Homo sapiens: one gene and its partners. The protein of the gene in region 1 purifies or fractionates together with the protein of each later gene. This does not show direct contact. Each region holds a gene or a part of one and is shown in the gene's direction. Other genes may lie near its edges.

Region 1 (4,078 bases):
TGGCTTGGTGGCTCATCTGTTCAGGGGTTCCCTTTTATCTGAGGCCTTCTTGGAGCTTTCTGTAGTCATTCTTGTTTTGTTTTTGAGACAGAGTCTTACTCTGTCACCCAGGCTGGAGTGTAGTGGCATGATCTTGGCTCACTGCAGCCTCCATCTCTCCAGCTCAGTGATCCTCCCACTTCAGCCTGCTGGGTAGCTGAGACTGCAGGTGCACACCACCATGCCTGGCTATTTTTTTTTCTTTTTTGTAGAGACGGGGTTTCACCATGTTGTCCAGGTTGGTCTCGAACTCCTGAGCTCAAGCGATCCTCCTGCCTTGGCCTCCCAAAGTTCTGGGATTACAGGCATGAACCACCACACCTGGCCACCAGTATCACTCTTTTTTTAAAAAAATTTTATTTTTATTTTAAGTTCTGGGGTACATGTGCAGAATGTGCAGGTTTGTTACGTAGGTAAATGTATGCCGTGGTGGTTTATTGCACCTATCAACCCATCACCTAGGTATTAAGCTCAGCATGCATTAGCAGCACTCTTAACACACAATTAAACTCACATGTAATGAGATTACTTCTCATTACTCCACACCATAGTAGTCTATTTTACAGATGAGGATACTGAGGCTCAGGGAGGCTGAGAGATTTACCTGGAGTCAATCAATTGTTGATCTGGAAGCATCCGATCACCAGGTCTTCTGAAATAATGACAGCAGCAACAATTAACATTATGCTTACTATGCCAAATGCTATGCTTAGCATTTTACCTGCATCACAATCGCGATTCCTTTGGGCAGTTAGGTAGGTTCCATTTTAACCGAATTTAAAGAGGAGGAAGCTGAGGCTCAGAGAGGTAACTTGCCCTAGGTAACCCAGGGTAGTCAGTTAAAAAGTCAAGACTCAGACCTCGATCTGACTAACTCCAAAGAAACCCGTGCCACTCTGCCTCTCGGAAAACACTGCTTCCAGCTGCACAGTTCAAAACCCCACCCAAGGCGGCCCTGAATCGCGGTCAGTCGGCTTCAGCCGAATCGCACTTTGTTTTGAACAAGGATACAGAGGGCGCTGCCTGATGTTAGTCTGGGGGCTTGGGGGAGAAGATGGGGGTCCAGGGTGGAAATGTAGGTGCTGGGGCTGTGCCAGAGGGAGAGTGTCCGGGACCAGCGGGCGAGTCACGTGCGCGTGAAACTCGACCTAAGGGGAGGGGAAAAGAAGGGAGCCCCCGCCCCCACCTCGGGGCGCAGCTCCGGACGCGTGTAAATACAACTATCAACTCCGCAGATCCACTTCATCCAAGCCCAGCTTCGCAGACCTCTGGCGCCCGGCGGGTTCCCAGTTCCCCCGCTTCTTCCGAGGAGACAGCGGAGGCGAGGCCACCGGGCTGTCAGGCTGAAGCTCCGTGGCCGCCGGGTCCTGCACGCAGAGAAGACCCCAGCGCCGGCGCGGCTCAGGGCTGGGCCCACGGGACTCCGGACGCGCCGCGAAAGCGTTGCGCTCCCGGAGGCGTCCGCAGCTGCTGGCTGCTCATTTGCCGGTGACCGGAGGTGAGCAGCGTGGGCGGGGAGGGGGCGCGCGTAGGGTCTCCGGCTATGCGTCGGCTGAGAGACACCGAGGCCGGCTCCCGCCGACACTGCCAGGCTTCCCAAGGAAAGACCGTTACTTGCGCCCGCGGTCCCGCGGCACAGTGTCCCATCTCGCCAAGCGCGTCCTTCCCTTTTCTTTTCTCTGACCCCTCCGACTCTTCTCTTCCTCCCGGGTCCCCGCTCGCTGCACTTCCTCTGCTTAGAGCTGCGCGTTTGCCAGAGTTCCAGCGGACCTCCTGGAGCGCTTGAACCCAAAGCCCCGTTTCACAGATGAGAATACCGAGTCCCCCTGGAAGAAGTGACTGGTACTTCCTCCCCTCTCTCTGGGTCTTTCTTGCCCTTCTCCTCTCCGCTTTCCTCGGTCTCATCCCAGTTGTCGCTCCCCGCCCCCGCGCCGCCCGCGTTCCCTCTCCTCCCGCCGAGGCTGCAGCGGCCGCGGCGGGGGGAGCTGGGGCTCTTTCCCTCCCTTTGGTAAACACACCCGCCCGCCAGCCCATCCGCCACCGCTGCCCTTATAAAGTCAGCAGCCGCCAGACTTCCTGCCGAAGTCCGAGCCCCCTCCCGGGGCTGGAGGGGGGCAAGCGGGTTCCGAGGTGCAAAGCCTGGTGCCCCGAGCCCTGCGGAGTGAGTGAGGGGCGCGCGGGGGAGGAGGGAACCGAGGAGAGCCCGTCCTGGGTCTCCCTCCACGTGGCAGCTGTTGGCTTGGCCCGAGAGACTGTAGGGTCGTGGGTCACCTGATACGGAAAGGGGGAGGGCTTGCTGTCGCCCGGCCCCAGAGGGAAGGAGAGGTCTTGGAGGGGCAACTGGAAGATGGGGTCGTAGGGTAGCCTTGAACTTGCCCTTCTTCCTGCCAGCTTCTAGGGGTCTTTCCTGGCGCGAGAGTCCGGACATGGGCCCGCGGTGCTTCAGAGCGCGCTCTGCCCCTTGCTGTCCTCTGGGGACCTGGGCAGATGCGGACTTTCTCCCCAGCAGCCCGGCCCTGAGCGCCCTGGCCTGGGTGAGAGAACCCGGCAGCCTGCTAGGAAGCTGCAGCGCGCAGACAGGACCTTCCTTGTTTCCGATAGTGGCTCAGCGGGAGCCCCGTGCCGCGTGCACCTCTGGCACTGCTAGTGCGCGCGGAGCCAGCTCCTTGGCACCGGCTGGGAAGCCCAGGGCTCTATGGGGCCTCCATGAGGGGCTCCTCGCGGGCTGGCCCGAGAGGTCTCGGGTGCCACCATGATGCAGGACCCTTCCCTGGGGCCACTGGGGGGCCCTTCACCCAGCGCTCTGTTTCTGTGCAGGCTCGGGGCCAGCATGGCCCCCACGCTGCAACAGGCGTACCGGAGGCGCTGGTGGATGGCCTGCACGGCTGTGCTGGAGAACCTCTTCTTCTCTGCTGTACTCCTGGGCTGGGGCTCCCTGTTGATCATTCTGAAGAACGAGGGCTTCTATTCCAGCACGTGCCCAGGTATGCCTGAAAATGGGCTGGGTGGGCTGGGGGGAGGGATGGCAAAGGGGCAGGTGGAAGCCAGAAAAGGTTAGGTGGCCAGGTGGACAGAAAGCAGGGTCAGCAGTTGGACAGCCTCACTTCTCGACCTCTTCAAACTTCAGGGGGAGATTGGGTGGCACTCTGCCCACTGTTTCATTTATCTAATCCAGTGGTCACTGAATGCCAGGTGTCCTGCTGGTCATCCAGACCCTGGGACTAATAGGCAGAGTCCTAAGCCTCTGACAGCCTCAGGTCTAGAGCTCTTTGAAGGAGACGTGCTGGGAGAGGAATTTCTTAATAGGGCTATCATAAGACAAGGGAGAGCTGCACAAAGTGGAGTATGAATATAAAGGGCCCCACATCCTTCCCTTTTCAGGAGCTGGGAGCCCCCAGGTTTTCAAATTACTCATTTGGACAAAGTTACATAGCCTCATTTACTCTAGGAGGGCATTGTGGAGAGTCTCTGGTTTCCACTTCAATCACCTTGTGTGAGTGGCCCCGAAGCTGGGAGTGGGAATTCTAACACTCTTTGGGAGCAGTAACTACAGCCATAGGCTGTCTGCAGCTGCCTTGGGGCAGGGAGTTACCACTGCTGGTGTCTAGGACTTGCCTCTGATGGGTATCTTCCTATTCTGGGAAGGAGAGAGCTGTGCTGACAAGCTCCGCCTCAGGAGCTGGGTGGAAATGGAATTGGGCTCCCCTCTCTTTTTATCCCCTTTCCCCAACCTCTGTGTTGTGGAGTAAGCTTGGAAGGAAGTTTAGCTTGGATTTGAATCCCAGCTTCCATCACTTTTATCAGTTGGTGACTTCGGTGAGTTCCTTAAACATTGAGCTTCAGTTGCCTGGTCTTCAGAATGGGGATAATAATATCGATTCCGTGGGAGTGCTGTGAGAGTCTGCAGTGCTTAATAAATGTTAGTGTCCTTCTCGTTGCTCCTGGCTTCTCGTTTCAACTCCTTCCTGCACAGCACCTGATGTGGCTATGGAAGAAAACCGATTCCTTGAGGGGTGGAGATGGGGAGGTCTTGATCACT
Region 2 (3,500 bases), on another chromosome or scaffold:
TATTTTTAGAAGTTTCAACCTGATAGCTTCCTCATGCAGAGGTGGCTGTGACATAGTAAGAACCTTGACAATGTTTCCCAAACTTTTTTGACCACAGCTGACATTGTAACAATACATTTTATATTAAACCTGTTCACACTTCCACAATGCAACTCAGTACATATATGCATAAGTCTATATGTCTGTTGGTCTATTTATGTATGCCAGTGCTCCGTCATGGAAACAATTGTGGTAGTAAAAGATACACCCATTAGACATGCAAACAAAGCATGTCTGTGGTGAAAGACTAACATGAGATACTATATACACAACAATAAAACAAGAACCTGAGTATGGGAAAAGTGGATGATAAAAACTACCTTTTCCCCCCTTTGCATTAATCCTGTTTGACTCATTCCCATTGCCCACCTGGTTCCTGTGGTCAATGGCAAGGGTACACCTGCTATAACCTGGTTCCTTATTGACAAGGCTTTGCAACCTCAGCATTGTGGCATTTTGGGTGGGATAATTTTTTTGTTGAGGGGGCTTTCCTGTGCACTGCAGGATTTTAGCAGCATCCTTGGCCTCCACCTACTAGATGCCACTGGTATCTCCCCAGTAGTGACAACGAAAATGTCTCCAGATTTTGGCCATTGTACCCTGGGAGGCAAAATTGTGTCATTTGGGACCACAGCTTTTATTCTCTACAGCTTACGAGAACCTTGAAGCCCATATGGTAGGAAACACTTGCGACTTCTTAGAGGCAGAAGTGGTCAGAAACTGGGTGGAGGCAGAGAGTTGAATCTAGCTGTTGGGGACTAGATGGGGGGAGCAATGTGGTGTGGTAGAAGCAGCATAGCCATATCAACACTGGCCTGCATTTGAATCCTGTTTCTGCATTCGAGCTGTTCTACACTCCTTTAATATTTCTCACCCTTAAAATGGGAATAATAAATGCTTTGTCTGATTATGGTAAAAAATAAATGAGATAATACATGTAAAATAGCACAGTAAGTTCATTCATAGTCAGTCATACCATATCATTGAGCGTCTACTAAGCCAGATGCTAGTTGGTGGGGTAAAATGTAGAATGAGACTCTGTCACCCCTACCTTCATGGAACTTACATTCTGGAAGGGGGGATGGTAAATAAATGAAAATAATTGCACATTGTGAATGAGTGCACTGCAGGAAAGAAACAAGCTGAGATAGAAAAAAAAGGAAATACCCTCTTTAAGTAGGGTCAGGAAAGGTCTCTGGGGAGGTAGCCTTGAAGCTGAGACCGATAGAAAGAAAAGATGTCAGCCGAACAGAAGAGTATGACAGAGCTTAGCATGTTGAAAGAAGAGAGGGTGGAGGTGCATCAAAGTGAGATGGGCATGGGCCAGATCTTGAAAAGGAGCTTGGGTTTTATTCTCAGTGCAACAGGAAGCCATTGAGGAATGCTCAACAGGAGGAGAGTGACATGATTAAATTTTTACTTTGAGAAATCTGCTCTTGGGAAAATGGGTGGTTGCACTACAAGGACAAAAGTGGAGAGACCCATGAGGAGGCTGTTCACGGACCTAGCAAGAGGGTTGCTGGCCTAGATGAAGGCGGTGGCTGTGGAGATGGAGAGAAATTGGTCAATTTGAGTTGTATTTTGGAGGTGAAAATGATAGGACTTATGAATTGGGCTTGGATTGAGGGAAAGGAAGGAGTTATGAATACTTTGTACATTTTTGGCTTCTCTAATTGGGTAAATAATGCTGGCATTCACCAAGATAGTGAAGACTAGGGGTATGGATGAGGGAATGGGTTTGAAGGAAAAGGTCAAGAATTTCGTCTTGGACATGTTACTTTTGGGACATTTGTGAGATGTCCAAGTAGAAATGCCAATCAGTGGTGGGATATGAGAGAAAAGGTCTGAGTGGAGATGTACTACAGGGAGTCATCAGCAAATAGGTGGTTTTCACATTAATGGTAATTGAATTTGTATTCCCATTGAACTTCTATTTCCATACTTAGGGGAACAATAGCATCTTATACTGATAGGGGGCTTACTCTTTGCCAGGCTTTGTTGGAAGTGCTTTAGATGAACTCATTTAACTGTTTACTCAGTCCTCACCATGACACTATGATTACTGTGCTTGTTTTACCACGTGGGGGGAATCTGAGGCACAAAGATATTAAGTAACTTGTCCAAGGTCACCCCTAGAATGTAGAAGGGCCAGGATTTGACCCAGGCAATGTGTTTCCTAAGTTCATGCTCTTAACTAGTATGCTATATTTCATCTCCTCTAAGGGGACAGTACAGCAAAAGAAATGAAACCCTAGAGTCCAATTCTGAGAAACCCTAACATTTTGTGCTCAATAAATGTTAGTTTTCTTGTTTCTTCCTTCCCCAGGAAAAAGAAGGAAAAGAGGGTCATACTTAGAGATACAGGAACAACAAGTAGAAAGAGCATATTAGGGGTGGCATAAGGGCCAAGAAAAGCTAAGGAAGCATGAGGCACAGGGACACAGGCCATCTTGGTGTGCTTGCTTTCAAACAGACACATAGACCCAACTGAGCACCAGCTGTGAGAGTGTGTTTATGTTAATTCATAGAGGTTATGCCAATGGGAATTTGGGATTTTAAAGAATTTCTTTAATGTTTACAGCCATTTTTTTTTCTTTCTAAGATAGACTTCTGGCTAACTCTAAAGAATGTTTATAATCACCTAAACATATTTTATTATTAACAGATACAGTTAGAAGTTTTCTGAATATGTGATGCTCATTAGCATCCAAATAACAAATTTGATAAGTTTAGTTTATGTAAATATAAGCATATGTTATCTATTTGTGATTGATTTTTGGCCAATAATATGGCATCAATACTGAAAGCACATACAGTTTTATTTATGTACATATGGGTATTTGGATGTTGCTAATATTTGAACCGTGGCTGTTATGCATTGTAAATACTTATCCTATTAGGCTGTATTAATTTCTCTTAATGAGTGTGTTAGGTATATTAATGTTTCTTAAAGTTCATGCTAATGAGGCAAGTTGTTACTTAGTAACCCCGAGGGATTGGTTCAAGGACCTCCCTCCGATATCAAAATCTGCAGATTCTCAAGTCCCTAGTATAAAATGGCATAGTATTAGCCTATAACATACACACATACTCCTGGATACTTTAAATCATGCCTAGATTACTTAGAATACCTAATAGAATGTAAATGTTACTTATATATTTGTTACACTGTATTGTTTAGGGAATAATATCTGCATGTGTTCAGTACAGATGGATTTTTTTTCCGCCTACTATTTTCAATCTGAGGTTGGTTGAATCTGCAGATGTGGAACTGACAGATATGGAGGACTGACTAAATCTACATTGTCATAGAGACCATAAACCTGTGTACATAGTTCCAAATGGGGTAGCTTTAGGCTTTATTATTCATATGTTTAATCCTAAATTCCTGTTTTGCTAGTTCTTTTGCCATCAGCTTGTACTTCAGCCAAACCATTGAGACATTACTCTTCCAGGGGAAG
Region 3 (3,500 bases), on another chromosome or scaffold:
GCTGGTGTCAAAGCTCTCTAGATGACTGCAAAGGAATGTGGAAATTTCATTCTGTTTTAGCTCATTATCTCCTGTTTACCCCACCCCACTGCCGGTTGCTAGCTATATCAATTTTTTTATTGCTTTAGTTACTCTTTCCATGCTTTCTCCTGCTTTCTGTACTTTCATTTCCTTTATAAAGTAGTTTTAACACCTAATCTATTAACTCCTAATATTTCTGCTTCATAGAAATACTTTTATCTCCGATGGTTGGATACAAGTGTTTGAGCACACCAAAACGTGCTTACAGTTGCAGTCTTGAATAGATAGGTTTGTGCATTAAACACGGGGGTGGGGAACTTGGTATCATGCTGATCTTGTCGCAGGGTTTTTGCCCATAAAATAGAAGATAGAAACAATTAAAATCTTTTTCTCAGAATCTAAATATTCTCTAGCTTTATCAATTGGTAATTTGCATTCTATCAATATGTCTATCAACTTTCTTCATTCCACCAACTTTCTTCATTTAAGGTAAAAACAAGAAAAAATGTAGTTGTCAAAACATGAATAAATTATTTACCTTTGAAAGTTTAATTGTTTATTAGAATCTTCTGGAAACAAATGTTACTTTAGCTGGTTTCTTTTTCTAAGCCCATTTTAGGTCACTAAGTAGACAATATGGGTAATCTTTATTAGCAGAGTTGTTCAAGTCATCCACATTGTTGACCACTCATCTTCTGTTTTGCTTGGGCAATGCCAAAACTGAGTCTGTAAATTACCTTATAATTTCAGGCACAGAATCAGAAGGAAAAAAATAACCTTAGGTTTGCCAGTTAAACTTTATCCATTTTCACTTTTCTGGGTGTTTTAAGGGGAAAAAAAATAATACCTTACCCAGGTAAAATTTAGCCTATCTTTCTAAAGAGGACTCTGTAGGAAAAACAGGGAAACCAATCAAATTAGGTTGTAAGAAAGGAAGTTAAGCATTGGTCAGAGGCAAATGGGACTGAAATGTGGTATCACCAAATGTTTTCCCATTGTTATTTTTGATTAAGTTTTTATCCTGCAACTGCTTAAGAGCAGTCAGTCCCTTCATAGTGTATCTGTACAGTTGCATAGGGGAGATAATTACTTCAAGATAGATTGGTGATTGGCAATGGACCCTGGACATAACTCTTTGACCAATGGATTTTGAACAAATGTAGGATAGTGAATTAATGATTAGAGATAAGTCTTATTTTAACGAGAAGCATATTTTAAAGCTATTTTATTTAAAATAGTCAATTTTCCCATTAACAAAATAATTTCAAATTGATATGTAGAGAAATAGTAGTTGGCACGTAATAATAGACTATTCCTATCTCTGACTCTGCTTTTACTTCAGAAAATAATGTCTTCAAAACTAACATATCATTTCGGCTTCGAATTCTCAAGTTTTCTTTTTAAATGTCTTACATTTGAGAGATTATTTACTTTTTTTTTTTTTTTGGTTTCTGCATTTCTCTTTTTTCTACTGCAATTTTCCACCTTTTGTGCAATTGTGAACAAGGTAACGAAACGCCTCCCTTCCTCAGGAACATCTGCTATCTTCATGCTTTCTCAAACTTCCAGCAATCACAGTTTCTCTTGGAGTGAATAAGGTGATTTCCTTTCTTAATGTACCAACTTGCTTGCATTCTCATTTGCCTGACACCATTTTCTAATTCTTTATGAAAAATTACTTCTCATGACTCATTTTATATCTTCTATTGATGCTTAGAGTATTTTGTCATTTTCTTTTAATCATGTGTTCACCTTCCAAATTGTCACACTGGAGAGGAAGTAATTTTTAAAAGCTTGGACTACGGGTCTGTAGTCTTCATTGATCCACGGTATGCAGTGGCCATGGCGTGTTAGAGCTAGTCTGTTCACCAGGACAGGAATGTTTTGCACAAATTTCTCTTTGTTTGATAATACGGCACCGGCACAACTCTCAGAGGTGTTCACCAAAAGGATGGTAAGGTTTACTAATCAAACCATATTGACTCATCTTACCATATTACTTACCAGTGCCATTCCAAAAACCCAAGTTTACTACATACTACTGTTGTCTGTTTACTTCTACCACAAAAACAATTCGAGTTGGAGACTTTCTTAGGCCTTTGAATGTATTCATTTGAATGTTATACATTTACTATATAGTGTAATCATTTGTACTTTTGGCCAGAGGAGTAGTCTATAGGAAATGATTTTTTTCTTTTACCTTTTTTTAAATATATAATCACCAGGTAGGTTAACCAATTTTCAAATGCTTTAAGTATCTTTGCCTCACTATTACAGAGAAATCTGAGCTGTAGAAGGGCATCTGACTCATTATCCGCCAGACCTTCAGTCAGACCTCTTCTTTTACGAACATTCTCAGACGAATCTAATGTATTGTAACAGGTACCTAGTGTTAAACAAATGGGCTGGCTTTAAAAAATCGGATTAACAGCATTATAAAGAAAAAATGAAAATATCACTCTCTAAATTTTCTCTGCTGTTGGTGTGGTGAACTTTACAATATTCTTTGCAAAAATATAAAGATGCATTACTTGGAATATGGGGAAATATGCATTTAAAATATTAAACATTAAAATATGATAAGCCCCCCAAATAAAATGTTAAACATTTTTCAGAGCCAAATGTTGATACAGCATATTTAATTTGTAAGGGGCAAGTTGTCATGGCAAGGCCACCATGTGAAAATGTTTGTTAATATTGATCAGGAAATATAACTTTGATTTATAAAGATCATTTGGAAAACTAAAAGTAAATATTCCAAAATTGCATCTGTATAATATCAAGCCAATTTAGCATTGCATGTTCTCTTGGGAATTATGTGAAAATAACTAAATGTGTTTGTACCTTCATGTGCTGTGTCTGTGTGTTTGCAGGTACTGTATACACTTATGTCCTTGTAAATGTCTGATCTCCAAATATATATCAATGAACCAGTCTAATCATAACTTTTTTAATGTCAAGTTTTATTCAAGCTAAATGTTTCAACTTTCAGAGGTAAAATATTTCATAGCCATTCAGGGGGATGCTTGCCTAATGATATAAAATGCTTTATAATTAATGTTTCCAAAAATGATTAAATTCACTTTATAATGTTTCATTTACCCCCAAAAATATTTGGGAGGAATTGATACGCCGTGGGAGGGCCCCTTGAACTCAGAATGACTCCTTTATGTATAGTCTGTATTTCCTTCAGTGGGGGCCTTTAACAACTCAGACCTCTGGAGGTCTTTTATCCATCCATAGGAATTTAGAGTAATTAATGAACAAGGCTTCCAAGCTTGTCAGCTTGGAAACAACTCTACACAGCTTAAAGCAGGGCCATCTTTCATGCACACATAAAAATTAATGATCATCATGAATACAATTGTGGGTTAGTTCACTTTGAAGCTAATAATTGCGAGTCCACCTTATAGGCCCATTTTTTTCAACAGCTGTCAACTCTGCCACCCTCTAGCAAAGAATACAAGTTAAATTAATGG
Region 4 (3,400 bases), on another chromosome or scaffold:
TATTTGTGTAGGATAGTGAATGATAAGCTTTTTTCCTAACCAGTAGTGAGTAAAGTTCTTGAACAAAATTTAGTAGCCAAATTGTTTTTTAATGACATGTCTCTTTAGTACAATAGTTTTGTGTATCTTTTAGATACATTAATAGGCACTAGATGGAAAATTAAAGAGTTAAACATATTTAAATGAGAGAATCTAATGTTTCAGAAATTTGTAAGAAATGTATCACAGCAAAGGGTTGTTATAAGTCCTTAGTTTTTGACTCTAATAGTTAATACAATTATAGTTAATCTTAAGCCATAATGTTTCTAATCATGTCACACAGCTGTCCTAGAACTTATCTATTTAAAATAGTTTCCTGAGTTAATTTTGGCCAGCAGGGCAACTGCCCTAATTCAGATAGATTTACAGTAACCTACGTACAGTAGATGCACATACACACAGACACCCCTTTGCTGGAGAAACTTAGGACCCTGTCAGCCTTTTAAAGGAAACAGCAGGAGTGGTGTCCTAAATGATGTTCATGCAGCTGCTTTACCATGTTCACAGTCAAGCCCATGCATGCCAGGTTAAAACTGTGGAAATCAAAAGTAAATTCACTCATATTTTAATCATTTTAACTGAGATTTAAAATTAGAAGTTTAAACCACTATATATAAAGAACTAATCTTTTCTTAATACCAGTTCTTTCCATAGCATATGCTTTGCAAAGGCAGCATGCATAAAATATTTAAAATGAGAGGACAGAATGTTTTCACATTTGATTCAATTTTAATATAATTCCTAATTGTGGTAACACAGTTGAGATATGTATTATGAGTTATGGGAACTAATTGAGAAAAGGAAGTTACTCTAATCCACGTATGTTAAGAGAATATTGAGTTTTCTTAGTTGTAAAGTTGGGGAGATGGCACCTTCTCAGAGGATTGTGAAAATATGAGGAAGAAACAAAACAGTGCATGTAGGAGCACAGGGCCACACAAAGGCATTCTATTGTTATGCTCATTCTGCTTCTGTAATGACTTTTCATAGGTCATTCTTGTGAACCATTTTGTTTTGCAAGCAACCAAGGAAAGAACATCTTAAGTGGAAAATCAGTGGTGGTTGTGAACACTTAGAGAATAGCAATCCACAGGCAAGAATAATGGTATTGTTTGTAGAGCTTTATTAATTGGATATTTTTTAAAAGACATTTTCATTCACAGGTCATTACTATGGTTCTCAGCGATCCAAATATGTAGATCATTGGTTTTTTTTTTTACCTGAAGTAGCTTAAGAGTACTTGGATCAGTAGAATAAATATTTATTGAATCAATCAGTCAGCCAATTAATATGATGTTAGTGATAGACCTGCCTCCTTTTATGGAAGAGGTAACAGATCCAGAGAGGTCAAGTAATTTAGTTGTAGACTGAAAAATATATCAAAGCCTTTGCTGCAATCATATGTAACAAAAAGAACCAAAACAAACACTTTTTAGTGGCACCTGTGGATTTACAAAGGGTTGCCTCTCTGTCATTCCACAACTTCAGAAGGTGTGACAGGTTTTCCCTATTTATCATTACCAATAATAACAAGTATTGAGAGTTTTAAAATTTCTCCCAGAAGATAAACTAACAAGGATGGAAGGGGAGGGCAAAGGATATCTAAACATGAGAATAAGGACATGTTAGAGGGGGGGAAACAGTTGTAACAATAAGGAAAGAGAAGAGCAACAGTGGAAGAGACAGGTTGTGTGCCCCTAAAGATTCTGCACCCCCAGTTTGGAAACACTGATACATTTTAGGACACAGAGCACTCCTAGATCTCTACGAAATTTTAGAATGAATAATGTGTAATTTATAGGATCAGAACGTATGGTTATTAAAACTTGGATCAAGATATGCCCGGTGTATACATTCTTAGCACATAGGAATGGCACTGCCATACTGGAGAAGGTCAGCAGTAAATAGGCATTCTGTACATAAGCCTCATGGAAGGGTAAGATGGAGAGACTGGCAGAAGTAGCACCTACTCTGCTGGGAGCACTTCTCTGAGTACGCTTTAGTTCAATTCAAATCACTGTATTCTTTCCCCATTGCTAACCTAATATATGAAACAAGCTTAGCTGTCTCAGAAGTTTTTCAAGAGATGATCAGGAAAAATTAATGCACATTCAAAAGGAGAATCTTCAGTACAAATTTGTTTTTTTAAAAATAGATTTAGGGCTGGGCGCGGTGGCTCACGCCTGTAATCCCAGCACTTTGGGAGGCCGAGGCGGGTGGATCACGAGGTCAAGACTTCGAGACCAGCCTGGCCAACATGGTGAAACCCTGTCTCTACTAAAAATACAAAACATTAGCCAGGCGTGGTAGTGGGTGCCTGTAATCCCTGCTACTTGGGAGGCTGAGGCAGGAGAATCACTTGAACGCGGGAGGCAGAGGTTGCAGGGAGCCGAGATGGCGCCATTGCACTCCATCCTGGGCAACAAGAGCGAAATTCCATCTCAAAAAATAAAATAGATTTAGGGGGTACAAGTGCAGTTTTGTTACATGGGTATATTGCATAGTGGTAAAATGTGGGCTTTTAGTGTACCTAACACCCAGAGAAGCATACATTGTGCCCAGTAGGTAATTTTTCATCCCTAAACCTTTTCTCAGCCTCCCACTTTCTGGAGTCTCCAATGTCGGTTATTCCACTCTTTATGTCCATATCTACACATTCAATCCTAATTTGTACCAAGTAGCATCTCACCTTTAAATCACAGGCTTATTAGTTGGGTGTTTTCTTTTTACTTATGAAAATTCATCTAGTCAAACTGTCAATTAATTTTTCCTCATTTCATTAAAAGTGTATATCTAATGCTTTCTCTAAAAATTGATGTACTGGAAATACAAATAAATAAATGCTCCCTGTGTAGAATTTCCACTTGCATCTTGTGCTTTTAATACCATTACAGGGTGTCATGAACAGGTTGTAAATGTTGCACTTATTGCCGTGTTTCAGATGGAATAAGTTGGCGAATTCTGGGCTCCTGAAGCTTGATCCAGTCGCTAGGGCTGGAAGCACTGTGTTAGGTGGCTGCAGGAAGAAGCAAGGAACTCAAGGTGATTGAAACTTCTTTGGACATAGGCCCCAAATTTCCTATGTGATCTCCATCCAGGAAACAGGCAGGATTCTGTGTGAGTGACAGCTACTCATTTTGTAGAGATTAGAGACACACCAAATTTTGGCTGCCTTTCTCCAGACCGTTACTAATCTGTGAGAAGACACAGGATGTAAAAACTGGGGACCAAAAGAAGGCTCCTTCTCCCTAAGGCCTTGAATATAGCTGGTCCATTCCCTGTGTCAAGAACCTACCATGATCCTGCTGGGTCCTCTGAGAGTGGAAGGAGACTCTGTCCATCTCACCTCATCAGCTCTTCC

The links.
Region 2: the proteins of SLC43A1 (region 1) and DPY19L1 purify together in Homo sapiens (affinity purification with mass spectrometry; one large-scale study listed by BioGRID and IntAct). This does not show direct contact.
Region 3: the proteins of SLC43A1 (region 1) and ATP11C purify together in Homo sapiens (affinity purification with mass spectrometry; one large-scale study listed by BioGRID and IntAct). This does not show direct contact.
Region 4: the proteins of SLC43A1 (region 1) and MYO6 purify together in Homo sapiens (affinity purification with mass spectrometry; one large-scale study listed by BioGRID and IntAct). This does not show direct contact.

Annotation. Positions count from the first base shown.
Region 1 is NC_000011.10:57,512,903-57,516,980, reverse strand, and holds the start of SLC43A1 (large neutral amino acids transporter small subunit 3), read left to right. Parts: upstream 1-1,278; 5' UTR 1,279-1,537; intron 1,538-1,779; exon of another isoform or gene 1,780-1,846; coding exon of another isoform or gene 1,847-1,881; intron 1,882-2,071; exon of another isoform or gene 2,072-2,200; intron 2,201-2,856; coding exon of another isoform or gene 2,857-2,869; coding exon 2,870-3,023; intron 3,024-4,078. UniProt on the Homo sapiens protein: Uniport that mediates the transport of neutral amino acids such as L-leucine, L-isoleucine, L-valine, and L-phenylalanine. The transport activity is sodium ions-independent, electroneutral and mediated by a facilitated diffusion.
Region 2 is NC_000007.14:35,030,986-35,034,485, reverse strand, and holds part of DPY19L1 (protein C-mannosyl-transferase DPY19L1), read left to right. Parts: intron 1-3,500. UniProt on the Homo sapiens protein: C-mannosyltransferase that mediates the C-mannosylation tryptophan residues on target proteins.
Region 3 is NC_000023.11:139,730,554-139,734,053, reverse strand, and holds part of ATP11C (phospholipid-transporting ATPase IG), read left to right. Parts: intron 1-1,528; coding exon of another isoform or gene 1,529-1,618; exon of another isoform or gene 1,619-1,619; intron 1,620-2,298; coding exon 2,299-2,400; 3' UTR 2,401-2,403; intron 2,404-3,500. UniProt on the Homo sapiens protein: Catalytic component of a P4-ATPase flippase complex which catalyzes the hydrolysis of ATP coupled to the transport of aminophospholipids, phosphatidylserines (PS) and phosphatidylethanolamines (PE), from the outer to the inner leaflet of the plasma membrane.
Region 4 is NC_000006.12:75,916,638-75,920,037, forward strand, and holds the end of MYO6 (unconventional myosin-VI), read left to right. Parts: 3' UTR 1-2,900; downstream 2,901-3,400. UniProt on the Homo sapiens protein: Myosins are actin-based motor molecules with ATPase activity. Unconventional myosins serve in intracellular movements. Myosin 6 is a reverse-direction motor protein that moves towards the minus-end of actin filaments.